3 separate regions of the Homo sapiens genome follow, and regions 1 and 2 are each reported to be linked to region 3. The links are microRNA targets in miRTarBase. Many come from high-throughput screens and were not tested one by one. Region 3 holds a microRNA gene; each other region holds the end of a gene's coding sequence.
What was found. The annotated mature microRNA hsa-miR-6864-3p reads GUGAGACUUCUCUCCCUUCAG and lies in region 3 at 1,240-1,260, shown strand. An mRNA with a match to its seed (bases 2 to 7 or 8) in the 3' UTR can be bound and repressed. Matches are read on the target gene's strand: a 7mer-m8 pairs with bases 2 to 8, a 7mer-A1 pairs with bases 2 to 7 and ends in A, and an 8mer does both.

Region 1: miRTarBase lists ST8SIA3 as a target of hsa-miR-6864-3p. The part of its 3' UTR that is shown has no 7-base or 8-base seed match.
Region 2: miRTarBase lists YARS2 as a target of hsa-miR-6864-3p. The part of its 3' UTR that is shown has no 7-base or 8-base seed match.

The regions. Positions count from the first base shown.
Region 1 is chr18:57,359,490-57,363,575 of GRCh38, forward strand. ST8SIA3 (ST8 alpha-N-acetyl-neuraminide alpha-2,8-sialyltransferase 3) reads left to right here. Exons shown (of 4, transcript NM_015879.3): 4 at 506-4,086. The coding sequence ends at 788. Among named protein-coding and RNA genes, the nearest start is that of ST8SIA3, 9.0 kb to the left of the region's middle.
Region 2 is chr12:32,743,951-32,748,036 of GRCh38, forward strand. YARS2 (tyrosyl-tRNA synthetase 2) reads right to left here. Exons shown (of 5, transcript NM_001040436.3): 5 at 2,594-3,413. The coding sequence ends at 3,254. It overlaps DNM1L (dynamin 1 like), which reads left to right. Exons shown (of 20, transcript NM_012062.5): 20 at 1-1,700. Among named protein-coding and RNA genes, the nearest start is that of YARS2, 9.9 kb to the right of the region's middle.
Region 3 is chr17:4,966,876-4,970,961 of GRCh38, reverse strand. It overlaps MIR6864 (microRNA 6864), which reads left to right and starts at 1,191; the gene lies at 1,191-1,260. It overlaps SPAG7 (sperm associated antigen 7), which reads left to right and starts at 3,145. Exons shown (of 7, transcript NM_004890.3): 1 at 3,145-3,242. The coding sequence starts at 3,158. CAMTA2 (calmodulin binding transcription activator 2) reads left to right here. Exons shown (of 23, transcript NM_015099.4): 17 at 426-622; 18 at 877-1,060; 19 at 1,261-1,332; 20 at 1,442-1,462; 21 at 1,625-1,812; 22 at 1,981-2,055; 23 at 2,143-2,965. The coding sequence ends at 2,206. MIR6865 (microRNA 6865) reads left to right here and starts at 812; the gene lies at 812-876. It also overlaps LOC124900387. RefSeq lists enhancers at 1,391-2,067, 901-2,100, 2,068-2,745, 2,746-3,422, 3,010-3,509 and 1 more and a silencer at 2,920-2,999.

The DNA of each region.
Region 1 (4,086 bases), not on the chromosome of region 3:
TAGGTTTGAGAAAGGAAGAGACGGAGGAGTTTCCCTTAGATTAAATGACCTCCTTCACCCTATCCAAGAACACTTTATGTAAGAAAAGCACAGTCATTCTTTTTGGTGGCCTTCTGTTGTGTCACCGCTGGGTCAGAGCCACACCACTCTTTAGAAAAACCCAGGGGCAGCTTCAAAGGCCAGCTTCAAAGGTGTGCAAACAGTGTGATCCCAGGAAATCCCATGCTCAGAAGGGCCCAACACTTGGTTTAATACTTTGCTCTTGCACTCGAAATTTTCAATACTTTTTGAACCAAGACTCCACATTTTTATTTCTTACTGGATCTCACAAATTATGTAACCAGTTGTGCCCAGAAGTTGTTTTTGGTTGCCTAAAATATAATTTCAAAACAAGCACTATTTAAGTTACAGTAACAAATCCACTACCCAGCCCAGTCAGATAGACCTTGCTGATTGAAACTTTCAACGCTGACCTCTGAATCCAAATGTACTTATTGTTCCACAGGTACTGGAAAAACAAACATTTGTCACCTAAACGGCTGAGCACAGGTATTCTTATGTACACCCTTGCATCAGCAATATGTGAAGAGATCCACTTGTATGGATTTTGGCCGTTTGGATTTGACCCCAACACAAGGGAAGATCTTCCATACCATTACTATGACAAAAAAGGAACCAAATTTACCACCAAGTGGCAGGAGTCCCACCAGCTGCCTGCTGAGTTTCAGCTGCTGTACCGAATGCATGGGGAAGGGCTCACCAAGCTGACTCTGTCACACTGTGCCTAAGAACTCCAAACGGAAAGCGCCAAATGGCTGTTTAAAAAGTGCCCCAAATCAAATTGAATAGCCTTCAGAATAGAACCCTAGAGAATGTCTTATAAGGATTGTCTGCCATTTAAAAGGAAAGATGTCTTTTCTCTTTTGCACTGCTCTTTTAAGAGTTTTAGCAGATTTAGCAGGACAGATGCATTGAAGCCACATGGTTTAGACTTGATTGATAAAGGGAATGTTGCATTTGGGACTATGCTGCTAACGAAATGGTTTGAAGTATTTTCATGTTTGGATTTTAATAATAAACTGCCTCTCATTTTTATGAGGACTAGAGCTATAGTTTCTGCAGCTCTGCTCAGATAGTCCTCATAATCAGAGGCCTCTGGCCAACTGGGGCAGGACCTGTTTTGCTGGTGGGATCAGACTCTGAAAAATGGAAACGTAAAAAACTGGTTTGCATATCTCATCTTCTATCTATCTCCCTATCTCCATCTCTATCACCATCTCACTCCTTCCCTCTGCAACTACTCCCTGCCCTACCACCGTGGAGTTTAATAATTTGCTAGGAATCCTATTGAATTCGCTTTGCTTGTATATGTTGCATTTGTACTTGATGTGTTTAAGGTTCTGGGTAACTTTGATGCTTCATGACAAAATAGGCAAATCACGATGGACTCCCTTGTGATTCCTTTTTTAAAGAAATGCCTCTGATGCAGTCCTCACCAGTCCATTCAGTCATTCTACAGCAAGATGGTCCCTCTGTGGTGAGTGGGATATAAGGCAGTGCATCTTTCATGATCACAAAGAAAGCCTATGTTGTGGATAGCATTGCGTCTCTTGATGTAGGCATTGTTATGGCAAATAATAGCACTGTGGCCACATCTGTAAGGCCATTCCAGCCTAAATTTAGTGTCTCCCATAATCCCAACCCATGCACTAGGCTGGGTGTTCTCTCAGAATATAGAGGCAATGAATCAGCTTAAGACCCTGGGACACACAAAGGAAAAGGAAGAAGAATATTTAGAAGTTGTTATGGAATCCTGTGTACCCTAAAGTGTGGTAACCATGTTACCCATTCCAGCTGGGTTAAAGTGGAGGAGGATCTTGGCCAGGCCAGGTGCCCAGGTGACTAGTGCTGAGGTGCGATCGTTTTCCGTATCATTGTGTGCACCACCACCAATCCAGAACCATTTGCTCTCTTTGAGAACATTGTAGCACTGGATATTCCCTCTTTCCACTGAAGTCAGATCTATACAACTACAAATTAAGCATTTCAAAAGAAAAAGCCATTGTGCAGTGGCAAGAGTTGGAATCCAAGATTATGTAGACCTGCGATGAAGGAAGTAGCTGGCCATTCTCATTTTCTTTATTTCAGCCATATGAGTAGAAATCAAATCATTCCCATCCCTGGCTTTTTACTGAGCAGCACTTTGTTCTTCCAATTCAGCCCAACGTCTGGCCAAGTTGATGTTAAATTTTAATAAGAGTTTCTTTCTTCTTTCCAAATGCCAGTCAAGCATATTTGTTATGCATTTGAGTGGGGTAGCTCATTCTTTTCCTGAAATCTCATCTAGATTGCTTGCAATGCGACAAATAACTGTTTAAAAAATGTGCTGTAGTTCAGTGATGAGCTCATTGCCCCTCTTTAGGAAGGTAAGATCATGCCTAAAATTAAACCGAATATGGTAAGGAAAGACACTATCGTTATGCTCACGTTCTGCCTGGTCCTAAACCTGCCTTATTATTATTTTCAGAAAGCAATCTAATTAGAGCAACTTGCATAGATCTAGATATTAACTAATGAAAGAAACACCAAGTTCAAATGTGTTACCAATTATGACACACATTACAATATAATTATAAGGGGAGACATTAAAAACATTTTGTAATTCAGTGGTATAATTTGATGGGTATCACAACCACACCGTGTTTGTTCCCTGTCCCTTTGAAGAGGACTGTACTACCATCCTCACACTGTGCTCTGTTGGGATCACTGAGAGATTGACAACTGACAGAAGTGTTTAGTTGGCTGTTCCTGAGCACTTAGTTCATTTGGTTATAGCTAAGTGATATTAATGCCAATATTACTTGGGCCAGATTCTGACTCTGGAGTTTTAATCCCAATGTGCCCATTCATTTTCACTAAATATAAATGCATAGACACTTTAAACCAAGAAGATTAAAAGAGGAAAAGACCAGAATCTCTAAAAAACAGTTTACTGTTCTGTAGTGGACAATTTAAATTTTATCTCATCATAATGCCAAGGATTTTTGTTTGTTTTTTAAGTTCAGGGAGATTTTTTAAATCTCCTTGCAGTCTTGGCTCCATCTTAACCTTAGAGTGGGAGGACTTTCCCATCCCCCACCACCGTGTTATCTATCACTTTAATGAAAACTCAAAATAGTGAGGAAATGGACTTTTCTTCAGAACTTGAGGGGTTTAGAGATCAGGCTCATCTCTGCTTATAAGGAGGACTTCCTGGAGATGATCCCAATAGATCACCCTTCACTTTTGAAGAATAGCAGCTTCTAGCTGACCATGCAAAATCTCTGTTTGTTTTTAAAGACTGTTTCAAAGATTAAATCTATACAACCACTTTTATGACCAAAAAAGTTGTTGTGTCCCAAGTGTCCTAATTAGAAAGGCAGCTGGCTCTCCTGCAGCTCCCAGGCTTGTGTAGTCAAGTGCAGTGAACTGGGCAGTAATCAGCTCAGGACCATTGGCTCTTTCCTCCTCTTTCAGCTACAGACACATGCCCTGGCTTTTGCATTGACCTTGCTTTGTTAGTTCTAGACTAATTTATCCTTTTGTCAGACACTTTCCCTTTTTTAGGATACTCACAACAGAGTCCACTTTCAGCTATTGGAATACATTTTACCATAAAGCCCCCAAGGCTTTCTACCCATAACACCAACACAAAAAACCAATTAAGTTGCAGAGGGGGGAAATAATCACAAACTTTTGGCAACCTGCTTAATGCTAGACGCTCTGTTTTCACTGGTTATTCTGAGTGTCATATGCAGATGCAGATCCAAGGGAGACAGGGCTAAATGGTGGTGTCAAGAATTCCTCCCACACCCCAAAAATTCTTTCCAATATTTGATTATTAAAATATCTATCATTTCTCCACCTTGTGTCTGTGTCTTAAGTGTCTGTGAATATTGTAAAAGTGCTGTATGTTTAGTAGTGTTGTGTGCCTGGCAGTGCTGACTATGACTACTGTGCCATCTGTCTGTGACCTTGATGTCAGGTACCTGGCCATGGGGCTACCAGCAAGGATGTGCAAAGGAAGAACCGCTGCCCCTGCCCTCA
Region 2 (4,086 bases), not on the chromosome of region 3:
TTTAAGAAAGCTGAATGCACAAGAGGATCTGTGACACTGACATGGCTGTGGTGTGCATACTGTGTAGTTACATAGCCCTTCCAATTCTGGGTCCATTTGCACTAGCAAATTAAAATATGCTTTGATTCATACTTAAACCTGAAAGCAGGAATGCCTACATTAATTCCTACATTAAAAACAGCCATCTACCCTTGATTATCTAGAAAGACTTGGTAATGATGGTCAGTTCCTTTTAGATTTCAGAAAATCAAATGATGACCTAAATTTCCCTTAATTTGCAAATACAGTAGTAATTAAGGTACATCTCTAAAGTGGAGCACTTACACCAGGCTCTAAGATTCACTTTGAGGTGGAACTTAAAACCAGTGTACTGTATGTATGCATTGGTAATAGCTACTTTTGCTTCATAGCTTCATACCAACAAAATATATTTATTAGAATAGTATGAAAGTACTGGAGGAGCTGAAAGAAAAACACCCAAGGCTGGGCGTGGTGGCACACGCCTGTAATCCCAGCACTTTGGGAGGCCGAGGCAGGTGGATCACCTGAGGTTGGGAGTTGGAGACCAGCTTGACCAACATGGAGAAACCCCGTCTCTACTAAAAATACAAAATTGGCCGGGCGTGGTGGCGCATGCCTGTAATCCCAGCTACTCGGGAGGGTGAGGCAGGAGAATTGCTTGACCCTGGGAGGTGGAGGTTGTGGTGAGCTAAGATCGTGCCATTGCACTCCAGCCTTGGCAACAAGAGCGAAACTCCGTCTCAAAAAAAAAAAATAAAACAACACCCAGATAGATACACATACTCCTTCAGACTTACAGACCTAAGCTGCATTTATGGGGTAGTGATGAGGTTTAGAACATATACATATTTTGTTAAAATTCCCCAGATGATTCTTGGTATGAACGACTATATTATAAATTTTAAGATGTACTTAGAAATCCTTAAGACATCTAGCCCCGTCTCTAATAGACAACACATTTATATTGCAGATATTACTTTTTTTTCAGTTTATGACCAGGTATTTATGAAGGACTATTGGCAGGGAAAATATGAATATGTTAACTTTAGCTTATGGCATCAATTTACTAAGGAACAACAGGCTCACCAACTGATGTCAAACATAAAAACCCCCACATCAGTCTGATACGATATGGTACTACTTTGAATCTGTTACTAGTACCATCTTGACAGAGGATACATGCTCCCAAAACGTTTGTTACCACACTTAAAAATCACTGCCATCATTAAGCATCAGTTTCAAAATTATAGCCATTCATGATTTACTTTTTCCAGATGACTATCATTATTCTAGTCCTTTGAATTTGTAAGGGGAAAAAAAACAAAAACAAAAACTTACGATGCACTTTTCTCCAGCACATCAGATTTCAAATTGAAAATTAAAGACATGCTATGGTAATGCACTTGCTAGTACTACACACTTTGTACAACAAAAAACAGAGGCAAGAAACAACGGAAAGAGAAAAGCCTTCCTTTGTTGGCCCTTAAACTGAGTCAAGATCTGAAATGTAGAGATGATCTCTGACGATACCTGTATGTTCTTATTGTGTAAATAAAATTGCTGGTATGAAATGACACTAAAGTTTGTCAAAAAATGAATTCTTAACTTTTCTCCCAGAGAAAGGGAGACAAAAGGAGCTTTTTAATACCTAATCTACTTTGGAACATAACCGTATAGAGTACGAAAAATTTTACGACTTTTTTCCTACCAGATTCTGACAGTTCACCAAGGTATTATAACATCTCCATTTTTGCGTATGAAGACAGTGACTTGCTCCAAGTAATCCAGGTAGTAAATGGCTAGAATTTGAACACTAAAGCCATGCTCTGCTGCCTGTAAGGTTTTCAAAAGAAATCTGATTAATCATTTCGTATGTGATTCACTTGATCCTCAAGGCAACAGGGATGCCATTGCCTTGATTTTTCAGATATGGAAATAGTTCTGGAGAATTAATTTGCCTCATGTTTGAAGAGCTGAACTCAGTCTTGATTCCAAATCCTTTAAGTTTGACCTGAAAACTTTCCTTACCTGGATACTTTTTGATATTCTCATATGATTGCATATTTGGTATAATTGGCTTTATTTTTGGGGGGTTAACTTTTTAATTTACCTCAAGTTGCAATCTGCTTGGGGGGAAAAGCTGAAACTTAAAACCAATTTAAGTTTCTAAATTTATAAAACATTGCTACCTTAGGAATCCACTGACAACAAGGCTTAATGTGAACAGAATTATACTGGAACACAGGCAAGGAACCAGAAAACTGAATTAGAAACTTTCTGAAAAGTCACGTACTGATTTTTGTACTATTATTTGTAAAGAAACTACTTACTGTAATTTCTCAAAGCAACCATGGCCTCATCTAACTTTTTCTCCTTTTTAAGAACTACATTTGCTCTCTGAACTACAAAAAAATCAAATTTCTATTCAAAGTTTCTAATACTAGTTTTCCCATTTCTAATGTGGACACTAGAGGCCCTGATGATTTTATAAACAACTATATAACATTAGTGACATCGGTGCTCCATACCTGATAGAAAAGCAGCTACAATTCCTTTTTTTTTTTTTTTTTTTTGAGACAGAGTTTCACTCACTACTCATGCTGTCTCCCAGGCTGGAGTGCAGTGGCGTGATCTCAGCTCACTGCAACCTCCATCTCCTGGGTTCAAGTGATTCTCGCAGCTCAGCCTCTTGAGTAGCTGGGGTTACAGGTGCCTGCAACCACATCTGGCTAATTTTTATATTTTCAGTAGAGACGGGGTTTCGCCCTGTTGGCCAGGCTGGTCTCAAACTCCTGGCCTCAAGCGATTTGCCCACCTTGGCCTCCCGAAGTGCTGGGATTACAGGTGTGAGCCACCATGCCCAGCCTCACAATTCCTTACACTACCTCTTTTTCATTGTTCCTCATCACTACAAAAAGGAGAGCAGGAAGGGTAAGATAGGAAAGCAGCATTTCTTTCTCTTCTGAAGTATAATTTTAAAAAGAGATTAACCCTGAAAATCATGGTTTTCTATGGTAATCAAGCTTTGTACATCAGAAAATAAAACATCCCATTATTAAACAAATATTTATTAACCGGCCCATAAAAATAATGAAGTTACTCACACTGAGTCCTAGTCCATTCTGTTTTTCTGATTTGCATAAGCAAAGGTCTAAGTTCTGGAGCCAACCCTTCAGAGGTCTTGAGAATGAATGATGGGTAAGTTTATTTGGACAACCAGAAGGACTTTTCATCACAACTGAAGCCATTTTATAATGTAGAAATTTCTTTTTCCTATTTTAAGTAAGGAAAGTCCATTCTTGAGAATATGTTGTCCAACAATTAAAACACTCTCAGGATTTGTTACTTGTTGGTGATTTATGCTGACTCCGCCTTCTGTTATCATTCGATACCTAAAAAATAGAAACGTTTAGTAAGTAGAGAGATCCAATCACTGTTGATCTGTCCCCCAAAAAAGACTGTTTCACTTAGATTTCAGAGGCTCTCCAATTGAGAAGATTTCATTTGGCACTGGACTGTTACCTTCATGTTTGCTCTATTATTAATAGATTCTGCCTCTCTTTACTGCTCTTTGTTTTTTGTTGTTTGTTTTTGAAACACATTCTTGCTCTGTAGCCCAGGCTGGCATGATCTCAGCTCACTGCAACCTCCGCCTCCTGTGTTCTAAGTGATTCTCCTGCCTCAGCCTCCAGAGTAGCTGCGATTACAGGTGCATGCCACCACACCTGGCTAATTTTGTATTTTTAGTAGAGATGGGTTTCGCCATGTTAGCCAGGCTGGTCTCAAACTCCCAACCTCAAGTGATCCACCTGCCTTGGCCTCCCAAAGTGCTGGGATTACAGGTGTGAACCACTGTGTCTGGCCGGAATTTACGCCTTGCAATCTGCTCTTTTAAAGACTCCGTCTCAAGAAAAAAAAAGAAAGACCTAGGAGAAGTTGTTCTAGGAGCACACTGGGTAGGTGAGGGCTGAACATTTCACTGAAAAAAGAGATACTTAAACTGGGAGTGAAGCTACCTTGACAATCAGGGCAGGAAACATGGGAGCAGCTAGAAAGAGGTGAGAT
Region 3 (4,086 bases):
GACTGGAGCCATTCATCCGGGTAGTAGTTGGCAAGTGTTGGAATGGTTCTTGGAGAGTTGAAAGGGAGCTGGGGGTGGGCACAGCCAAGCCTATGGGGAGCATGTGCTGGTCAGCTGGCATGGGGCAGGCCCAGGTAGGACAGTGGATGGTTGGCCTGAAAGGGTGTCAAGTCCTCCATTTGTTCAGCTTTGAATCCCCACTTGGAGTATCTCCTTTTTATCCTATATTCTCCATAGCATCTCAGCACAGAGGGACCCCCAAGTGGGAGCCCCATCAGTATAAATGAATGAGTCTGGAACAGTGGCCCAGAAAGACAGGGTTAGCAGCACCTGGCAGGGAGAGAAGGAACAAGATAGGAATGGACTGAGGTTACAGCTGGCAGCTGGGGCCCCTAAGGACTCACTCAGCTTCTCCCTTCTTCCAGGTGGACATGATCTCACTAGCCAAGCAGATCATCGAAGCCACACCGGAGCGGATTAAACGAGAGGACTTCGTGGGGCTGCCCGAGGCTGGAGCCTCAATGCGGGAGCGGACAGGGGCTGTGGGGCTCAGTGAGACCATGTCCTGGCTGGCCAGCTACCTGGAGAATGTGGACCATTTCCCCAGCTCAACCCCTCCCAGGTGACTAGCTCAGGACAAAGCCTCCAGATTCTTCAAAGGAAGATGGGAGGAAGGGAGAAAGCTGGCTTTCCCACAGCCAAAGCTCCATTCTGGCTGAGGCCCCAGGGCCTTGGAGAAGCGAACTGAACTGGCTGATGAACTCTGAAGTCACTCTCCAGACTCAGTTGCTGGTGGTTTTCCTTCGTAGCCATCCATAGGTGGCAGAGGAGGGACTTCAGATGCTTCATGACACCCTCTTTCCCTACCGCCTACAGCGAACTGCCCTTTGAGCGAGGTCGCCTGGCTGTCCCTTCAGCACCCTCCTGGGCAGAGTTTCTCTCTGCATCCACCAGTGGCAAGATGGAAAGTGATTTTGCCCTGCTGACACTATCAGATCACGAGCAGCGGGAACTGTATGAGGCTGCCCGAGTCATCCAGACGGCCTTCCGAAAGTACAAGGTCAGGGGCAGGGGTCTCAGGATGAATTACACAATCTCCAGTCAGGGGAGACTGGGCTCCCAGGGCTTTTGGAGGATGAGTAGTCGTGCAGACAGGCCTTGGATGGGGTAAAGGGTCAGGGGAACCCCAGGAAAGTTGAAGGGACAAGTCAGATATGCCATTATGTGGGTCATGAGGTGGTGAGACTTCTCTCCCTTCAGGGCCGGCGGCTGAAGGAGCAGCAGGAGGTAGCAGCAGCTGTAATCCAGCGCTGTTACCGGAAGTACAAGCAGGTGAGACCCTTCTCCCTCAAAAGTGTAACCAGCAACCCACCAACCCACACCCACGCCTAACCATTCCAGAATGTTGCCAGAGCCCTAACTCCCCTTCTCTCTCCACAAGCTGACCTGGATTGCACTTAAGGTATTAGGCATGAGCTCTGAGTGTGAGGTCTGTGATGATTCAGTCTTTCCTTGAGTGTGTGGGTTACAGAGAGTCTTGCATCAGCCTAACTTGGGTGAGCCTCAGGGCTTTGGGTCTCCGTCCCTCTATTTCAGCCCCTGTCCCTCCTCCCCACCCCTGCAGTTTGCACTCTATAAGAAGATGACCCAGGCGGCCATCCTGATCCAGAGCAAGTTCCGAAGCTACTATGAACAGAAGCGATTTCAGCAGAGCCGCCGAGCGGCTGTGCTCATCCAGCAGCACTACCGCTCCTACCGCCGCAGGCCCGGCCCTCCCCACCGGACTTCGGCCACCCTGCCTGCCCGCAACAAGTAGGGCCCAGCCCCAGCCCTCTGTGCCCACCCACTGCATCCACGCCATTCCCCCTTACTCATCCTCTTGATCATCATGCCTCACTGCCATTCCCTGCCTAGGGTTCCTGGGGGGGCCGAAGGCATGCGATGCCTTCTGTGAGGTCCATCTTTTGTTTCTTTCACCAGAGGCTCCTTTCTCACCAAGAAGCAGGACCAGGCAGCCCGGAAGATCATGAGATTCCTGCGGCGCTGCCGACACAGGTACTCATCCCTTCTCCCCCTGGGCTTTTGCGTTGCCACCCGTCGTGATCCGCCAGTCTCCTCTGACTCCTATCTTTCTCTCTGCAGGATGAGGGAACTGAAGCAGAACCAGGAGCTGGAAGGGCTTCCCCAGCCGGGACTGGCCACATGACCTGGCCACCGCCTTTCTCACCACCCTGGGGGCGCCTCGTGCAGTCTTAACAGGGAGAGGGCTTTCTGGGGCAGGGGGAGCCCCTGTCGGCAGCTTTCCTGTTCACCTTTGTTGGAGCCCTCTGTAGGCCTCCTCCCTCCTCCCCACGCCTTGCTCCCACACCCCTCTCCTCGTCCCTCCTGGTCGTGCCCCGTCTCTTTTGGTCCTGGCTCCAGAAAACCCGCGCCCCACATACCTGCATCTTCCGCTGTGACCTCCGGAGCCCTGCCTGCCCCTGCTCCCCAGCTCCTCCTGCCTGCACCCGACTCGGCCCCCTCCTGACTTGCCTTATTTATTTGTTCGACGCGTCTCTGAATGTATCCGCCTCGGTTCCCACCACTGCCTTCGCTGCGCACGCCCCTCGTGTTTCAGGGCTGACCGTGTCCCCACCCGACTCCGCATGTTTGCGTCTGTTTCCTCCCTCTCTGGCCCTGTCTTACCCCATCACCCGACTCTGGCCACTGACCTCAGGGCCGAAGGGGAGGTGGTGTACATAGGAACGCGTTGCGGAGTCCGCCCCGTCCCCCGAGGGGAGGGGTCTTGTACATACTGTAACATACAGAGTATAGTGAAGAATCTATTTAAGGCGCCGCGGGGAGGGCTGCACGGCCGGGCTTGTGGTTCTCTAGCGCGGCGGGGGCCTCCTGCCGGCTCCACGGGCACTTTCTACTTGTGCATGGGCTTGGTTTATACGAATTGCCATTAAACATCGCTGCACCAGCCAGCCTCCGGCCTCTGTCTGCGGGGGCGGGGCGGGGCCTAGGCCAGCTGGAGGCCGCCATGCACCGCGGGCCTGGGATCTGCGCCCAGGCCAGGCGGGCCCAGGGTTTTCCGCCTCCGACGTGTTTCCGGCCTTAAAGGCATTCCGCCCTTCCCTTTAAGACGCACCGCCCCCTCTCAGTCACTCCCAAGATGGCGGACCTACTGGGCTCCATCCTGAGCTCCATGGAGAAGCCACCCAGCCTCGGTGACCAGGAGACTCGGCGCAAGGCCCGAGGTGAGGATCCCAAATTCACAACCGCCTTCCTTCGCCCGGTTCTCGGGACCATACTTCTCCCTCTTTGGACGATGCCGCCTCCTCAACCTTGAAAGACCCCTCACAGGCCCCTTCCGAGACCCTCAGAGTCCCTAAAAGGGCTGCTGACACGCCCGCTGTTCTTAGCGGACAGTGATTGGCTACCTGAAAGATAGCGCCAGCCTCCTGCCTCTTCTCCCGACCCTGGCCTTCCGCAGTCCTTGTTTCCCATTAGCCGGCCGTCCCGCCTGTCCGCTGCTGACCTGGTCTGATTGGTAGGGTGCCTCCAACCTGCCGCATTCCTGCCCCGCTCACCTCTAGCTCTATTTCGATTGGATTTAGGACACGCCATCTACTGTGCCTTCATCTCTATTGGCTATCTCAACTTAAAGCTCTGCCTCCTCAGGCCTGTTCGACCTTCCTTCGAAACCACCCCAGCCTGCGAATTCCCATTGGTTGCAGGGTCCTCTGTGTGTTCTTGCCCCTCCTGCTTAATTTAACCCAGTCCCTTCTGCCTCCCTCCGACAACCTTTTTCCCATCCGTAGCCTTAAATTCCCGAGCTGCCCGGGCGGATCGTAGTGTTGATTGGAGGGATGAGAATACCCGCCGGGTCCGATTGGCCACTGTCTCCGCCTGCGTTCTCGGAGTAGCTTCCCTGCGGGTGGGCTGGAGTTCGGCGGCCGGCGTAGGGCGCGGCCCTGCAGGGCGGTGGGAGCCTCCCCGGGGCTGCTCGTGTTGCAGCTTGGGATGATACTGGCGGAACGCAGGACCCCAACTCCCAAACCTGCGGACCTTGACCACGGACGAGCCCTGTCCCAGCTCCCC